Homo sapiens: one gene and its partner. The protein of the gene in region 1 purifies or fractionates together with the protein of each later gene. This does not show direct contact. Each region holds a gene or a part of one and is shown on either strand. Other genes may lie near its edges.

What was found. Proteins that work in one complex are often made in the same cells at the same time.
Region 2: the proteins of WSB1 (region 1) and NUP210 purify together in Homo sapiens (affinity purification with mass spectrometry, with the first as the bait; one large-scale study listed by BioGRID). This does not show direct contact.

What each region holds. Positions count from the first base shown.
Region 1 is NC_000017.11:27,304,113-27,307,613, reverse strand, and holds part of WSB1 (WD repeat and SOCS box-containing protein 1), read right to left. Parts: intron 2,835-3,501; coding exon 2,703-2,834; intron 833-2,702; coding exon 732-832; intron 1-731. UniProt on the Homo sapiens protein: Probable substrate-recognition component of a SCF-like ECS (Elongin-Cullin-SOCS-box protein) E3 ubiquitin ligase complex which mediates the ubiquitination and subsequent proteasomal degradation of target proteins.
Region 2 is NC_000003.12:13,413,822-13,417,322, reverse strand, and holds part of NUP210 (nuclear pore membrane glycoprotein 210 precursor), read left to right. Parts: intron 1-3,501. UniProt on the Homo sapiens protein: Nucleoporin essential for nuclear pore assembly and fusion, nuclear pore spacing, as well as structural integrity.

The DNA.
Region 1 (3,501 bases):
ATAACTATCATTTTAACATACTCCTTGGGTAAATAAAATGCATTTCAACTAGCCTCCCACCCTCCATTAATTCAAAGTGTATTGTAATTATCACATGTATTTGGACTTCAACCATTTTATAAATACTTGAAGCTACTGAGATCAATTTAACTATACTAACAGAGCTGGTAAACAACTACAAGAGTTCATCAATAAGCATAACCCTCTTAACAGTCACTTTACTTAAGCTGTCTATAGGTATGCTATGTAAGACAAACAATATCAAATTTCACCTATAACTGTAGGACATACATGAGTGCTATTTTTATATTATTTTAAGTTACTTTTTTTTCAGTTAAATGTACAGGACCAGCTGGGACTCAAAACTTTAAAAACAGCAAACTGGACCAAAAAAATAGAACAACAGAGAAGAAAATAATTAGCAAGGGAATGTCTTAACATATAGACTAGATCTCTTCTACAGCACATAAACTTTTCTAGACTTACAAAAAAAAAAAACCCTGATATGCCCATTATTATCTATTATCTCTAAAAACAATCCAACTTCTCACTTGGCAATCAATAACTATATTTAATTTCCTTCATGCAAATTCTCCCCCATCATGAAATAAAACATTTAAAATATTCATGACACCGAGCACAGACTTCATAGGTTACTTAGATTTAAAATGATTATGCACACATTATCATAATCCAATTCATAATGAATGTACAAGAACTTTGACACGTACTGCTTTACTGGCTCCGACTGAACACAGCATAGAAGAGTCAGGAGAGAATGCACAGCTGTACACCCAATTCTGATGCCCCCTCAATACTTTCATCATGTTTCCTGAACAAAAAGAAATAATCTGTATTAACCCTAGAATCCACTTCAAATGAGCAGTATTTCAAAACAGCAGTAAAGCAAAGGATCACAAACATTTATAGCTGAAAGCAATTTATCTATAACAAGGGTTACCGATATACACCAGCTGCTTAGGTTTTAAATTTTACTGGAACACAATCCTGTCCATGTGTTTATGTTGTGCTCTACAGCAGACAGCATGGTTCACAAGCCTCAAATATTCAACATCTAGCCCTTCAAGAAAAAGTCTGGGGCCTGGCGCGGTGGCTCTTGTCTGTAATTCCAGCACTTTGAGAGGCTGAGGCAGGTGGACTGCTTGAGGCCAGGAATTTGAGACAATCCTGGCCAACAGGGTGAAACCCATCTCTACTAAAAAACATTAAAAAATCAGCCGGGCATGGTGGCGCATGCCGGTAATCCTAGCTACTTGGGAGGCTGAGGCACAAGAATTACTTGAACCTGGGAGGCAGAGGCTGCAGTGAGCGGAGATCACGCCGCTGCACTCCAGCCTGGGCGAAAGAGCGAGACTCCATCTCAAAAAAAAAAAAAAAAAAAAAAAAAAAAGACAGAATTCTTTTAGTCCAATCCCCTTATTTTAAAAGTTAAGCAACTGGAACACAACAGCAAGGTTAAGAAACTTGACCATCTTCAAAATGCCTTTTCATTCTTCATTTTTGAGAACCTACAACTCACTCCAAAGTCCTTGTGTATTATACCCACAGCACACAACTATGCTTAAGTATACTGAACTCTTAGTTTTACAAATACTTACTGAGTGCCTACGCATGCCAGGCCCTATGCCGGCACTGAGGATATAACTGGAAATAAGGCAAGGACCCCACTATCTTGGAGCTTATATTTTACTAAGACTATGTTCTTAAAACATGTACATTGCTGAAATTAGTTTGAGATAAGCAAGCATCATTCGATATGCAAAATAAAAAAATTATTAAAATATTTCAACTGTTGGCATCCCTTTGCACCTCAACAGCTGAGCAGATAAAACACAGAGAAGGTCCTTCATGATTTGTTAATGTTAGCATAGAACTTTATTAAGGAATGGTTACTATCTATCAGCTGGAACATCTCCAGATCTGAGGGTTTTGTTTCCTACTAATTCAATTTAAGCTTTATTACCCCTAGGCAAGCCTGTTAACCTCCAGCTTGAGGCTGTTAGAGCACCAACAGACCTTACATTTAAGGTTTTAGTTAAACATATAAACTCTTTCATTAGGGACTGAGAAAGGGAAGAGATGCTCATCTCAAATGAGGTAGCATCTCCAAAACTTTGTAAGGCTTTAGAGAAAGGTGAGTACTTGACACCAACGTATCTTTCTATTGTATTGGACAGTAAATCTTTCACTTTTTATAAAAGCACTTCTTAACCTAGCCAATTTAACGTTTACTAATATTCACATGTTATAAGTTCTGGTATGTAGGTCATGTTTCAATTTAAATTTTATTAGATACTAAGTTACTTCAAGACCTACCTAAATTTTCACTCAGCCAATACAGTAAGTTAATAACCCTCCCTAAGAGGACATAAACACAGACTGGTTCCTGTAAAATCCCAAACCTGATCCATATTTGGTCCTCAGATAGTTGATACAGATTTATGTGGTTAGTTTCTGAATAATATCAGATCATTTACTTCGAATAACTGTTGGCTCCTATTCTGGGTCACATTTATGTTTTTCTTTGATCTATTCAGGAAAGGAACCTAAGTGTTAAGGCAGAGAAAAGGAACTTTGATCACATGTCATTTTTAAAGTCAAATGCCCCACATGTTCCCAATACCTCTCCATAGTAGTATCAAGAAACAAATCCTAGTTCATAGCTTGGAAAAAAGACATACCATCATCTTTCAGGTCCCATACTCTGAGAGTTTTGTCTCTTGAAGCTGACACCAGGATCAAGCTTCCATCTGGAGCAAAAGTTAAATCTCTGACCACTTCAGTATGATCTACCAAGTTAAGGAGGAGTTTTCCTAAATATGATAGAAAAGGGAAAAAAAAGACAGTATTAATATATTTTTGTTTTGTTCTTATTTTTCTTGAGACAGGGTCTCACTCTGTCACTCAGGCTGGAGTGCAATGGCGTAATCTTGGCTCACTACAGCCTCGACCTCCTGGGTTCAAGCAATCCCCCTACCTCAGCCTCCGAAATAGTTGGAACTACAGTTACAAGTCACCACGGCTGGCCTTTTTTTTTTTTTTTTTTTTTTTTTTTTTGGAGAGATGGAGTCTCACTATGTTGCCCAGGCTGGTCTAAAACTCCTGGGCTCAAGTGATCCCCCAGCTTTGGCCTCCCAAAGTGCTGGAATTACAGGCATGAACTTTAAAATATAAAATCAAATTATTTCTTTGCTTGTTATTTCCCTGGCCTAGGAATGTTAAGCTCCTCAAAAGATACAAGTTATCCCACAACTTTAGTTTTCAAACATGATCCCAGTGAAAAAAAATGTATTTAACTAATAATGTAAGAGCTTTGTTTTCTAAGACAATCTATGTGTTCATCTTGTTTTTTTCAAGAACCCAAATTTTGACTCATTATCACCTATGTTAGTATCACTTGTTATGTTCTAATGTACATGTTCTTTTAATGCTTCTTTAAAAATCCTTTATGTTTTTGAGTACATATTATATGCCAGAAAG
Region 2 (3,501 bases), on another chromosome or scaffold:
AACATCAAAATTGGACAGTTTTCGGGCCAGGGGAACCTTAGAGGTCACCTAGTTTAAACAGCCTGTGTTTCATATAGGAAAACCTGAGCTCCAGAAGGGGAAGTGATCTCTGGGAAGTCTTGTAGCGATGGACACTGAGTTGGAGCAGGAGCTGCTGGGACCCCTCCCTGTCCCACGCCATTAGACCTGGGGACTGGCAGCCTCTGGCTAATTTGCCAGGCTCTAATTCTCTCCAACTGCACCCAGCCAGCACTGGTTTTGTGACAAGTTCCTGATTCCTTCTAGATATTTTGCATTATTGAAAGTGTTCCATAAAGTATATTACATTTGCTCCTTTTAAAGGTATATACAAAACGACCTCATATCAAAAACTGGGAGAACAGACGAAAAAGAAATCATGCCATAATCTTCCAGCTGTAATACAATCACAGGCAGCATTTTGGTTTCTTTTCGGTCACTTATGTTTCCTCTCCTAGCTCCTTTCTTACATTGCCTTGAACCTGGTTATTTGGGCACCTCGGGAACCTCCTCCCCTGCCAACACTGGCTAGCACTGAAGCCCAAGCACTGCTCTGTTGCTTCTTCCTGAGGGCTCCGTGTCTGAGCACCTTTCTGCTGGGTTGAAGTTGCCTCCTCATTGATTCTTTCCCTGTCATGGAGTCCCAGGGTATTCTGGGTGCTCCAGCAAGGGGGCGCTGTCTTGGAGAAAGTGAGTGGCTCAGATTGGTTTCCCAGGGGTGGAGCCTGAGGCAGGATTCTGCTGCCCTAGTTTACAGAGAAAGTGCTCTGTTGGGCAGCTGGATAGGGAAGGGAGGCTGCCTGCAGGTTGTCCTGCCTTCAGGCGAAGAGACCAAGCTTTGAGCTTTTGTACCCACTGTCAGGCAGCCATTGGTTCCCCTGGGGAAGGGGATGTTGTGCGACCTCCCGGGCCTCTGGCGGAGACACTCTGTTTTGAATTACGACCTGCAGCTCCCCTGGCTGAGGTGGGGAGGGGATGTGGACCTGCCTGGTGAACAACATCCAGACACAGCATGCACAGTGACTGCCATACCAAGCTGTTCACAGACTTCTCCTTTCCTGCCCCTGACAGTCTCTCCTGGGCACCTTGGAGCCATCTAACACGTGTGCCAGGCCTGGTCCTGCACCAGGGTACACCCTCTCTTATGTGGTCTGGGGCACTTCTCAGTCACAGGTGTAAGGATTCTCAAACAGGTAGATGGGAGTCCTTTCAGGGCCAGGGAGGGCACTGGTCCCTATGCCGTGGAGCTTGGCCTTGGGGCATGCTGTACCCCAGGCAGTTCAGATGACCCCTGGGGAGTCCCTCTTTGCTGAGGGGTGACTGTGGGAGGCCAGAGGCCAGCACTACCCTTGCGTGTGGATGTCCTGGGTCCCTCTCCCTGCCCCAGCAGGGGAAGCTGCAGCAAATCCCCTCACAGGCCTTCGTGGGTGAAGTTGGGCACTAAGGGTGAGGGATGCACGCTGAGCCAAGTCAGAGTGTCATCTGGCCTAGCTGGCTTCTGCTGGGCTCAGGGACCCTGAGCCTCTGGGACGGGCACGTCAGCAGGTCACATGCTGGAAACTTGCACAGGTGAGGCAACAGGGCCTGTAAGAAGTTGCCCCATAGTCAAAATAAAAAATTCACAAAGTGGAAACAACCCAAAAGAGGGAGTTGAATTCGACGGGAGGCCCCCAGTTTGCTCTTCTGTACCTCCTTCACTTGGCCTTCCCTGAGCCCACACCTGTACTTCTGCTCTTTTCGTTGAGAGTGTTTTCCCCTGTACCACTCAATTTGTGTGCATGCTGCATCCCCACACACCTAGGCCAAATCTCTGTCTCCTTCCTTATGCCTGGCCTTAGAGTCACAGGCTTTGGTCGATTGCGTTATCATCTGGGCCTATTTGATGGCATTTCTGGCAGTTAGAAAGTGGGGTGGAGAAACCAGAGCTCCCGCAGGGCCTGGGAGAGGGCACACGGTGAAGACCCGTCCTGCCTGAGCACCAGGGGACAAGCACTGATGGACGACACATATTTCACCGAGGAGGGCTGGAGAGTCACTGAATAAGAGGTGACAAATGTCTGTGACTCTTTTTATTTTTTGAGATGGAGTCTCGCTGTGTTGCCAGGCTGGAGTGCAGTGGCACGATCTCGGCACACTGCAACCTCCACCTCCCAGGTTCAAGCTATTCTCCTGCCTCAGCCTCTCAAGTAGCTGGGACTACAGGCACATACCCAGCTAATTTTTGTATTTTTAGTAGAGACAGGGTTTCACCATGTTGGCCAGGATGGTCTAGATCTCTTGACCTTGTGATCTACCCGCCTCAGCCTCCCAAAGTGCTGGGATTACAGGCATGAGCCACCACACCCACCTGTCTGTGACTCTTACTATGAGCCAGGCACTACTTGAGGTCCTGGGATGTGACAGTGAAGCAGCAGGAGATGCCCTGCTCTCAGGGACTCACAGTTGATTGCCGGAGTTAAACGGTTAATTAAGATGAGATCTGTGGATGCATGTGAGGCAGGAGTAAGTCCTGAAGGAAACAGAACTGCAAGGCATGGAATGTGTTTTGGGGAGGGCGCTCAGCATAAGCCTCCTGGGAGTCGAACTAGGAGTGGAGTGGGGTTGAGTTGGAGGGGACAGCAAGTGCAAAGGGCCGGAGGAGAGATAGAGCTTGTCAGAAGTGCGCAAAGGCAGCACGTTTGGCCAGGGCAGCAGGGCTGGGAGGGAGGGTGGAGAGGTTGGCAGGGCGGGGCCATGTGGGACCTTGTGGGCTGTGGTTAGGAGACAGGAAGGAGAATGCCAGGTCAGATGTGGGCAGGGTTAGACTGGGCCTGGTTTTTGGGCCTCGTTCTCCCTGGCCCCTGAGGGCTGTCTGTAGCTGTGGCCCCTGCAGGGCTGGACCGGGCCTTGCTCAACTCCCTTCACCAGGCCCGCAGCAGGGAAGTGCCAGGAAGTGTCTGTGGACCTGGGTTGACTTGGGCCTTGGGTGATTTTCTTCCTGCTTCCTTTGTGGGTCCCCCACTCTGCCTGAGCTCTGTCAGCCCCACGAGGTGGCTTCCGCTCTGTAGACACTGCCTTTGGGCACCGTTAGGGGCTGGACCCCGCGGGTGGATGGGAGGTGGCGTGTGTCATCCACCACCCTCACCCATCCTTGTTCTTTGTGCAACTCTCACTTCTCTTTTCTTTTCACTGTTGCTTTCTGGCCTGACCCAGGTCCCTGAGTTCCCCTATGGCCTGCCTGCCTCCTGTTCCTGTGTTGTGAAGAGTGGGGAGCACCCCCTCAAAAGCAGTGCCTGCCAGACGCCAGCACATTCTGTGTGCCAGTGGGGCCTCATGCGACAGTGGGAATGAGAAAAATTCACTCTTTCAAAACTCACTGTCAGTCCTTTAATTTTCCTCAAAATAAAAGTTTTCTTCTGGTGTCTGTATGTGGTTTACATATTTTTTTATTTTAAATTGTGGTAAAATATATATAACATATAATCGACCTCCTTAACCATTTTT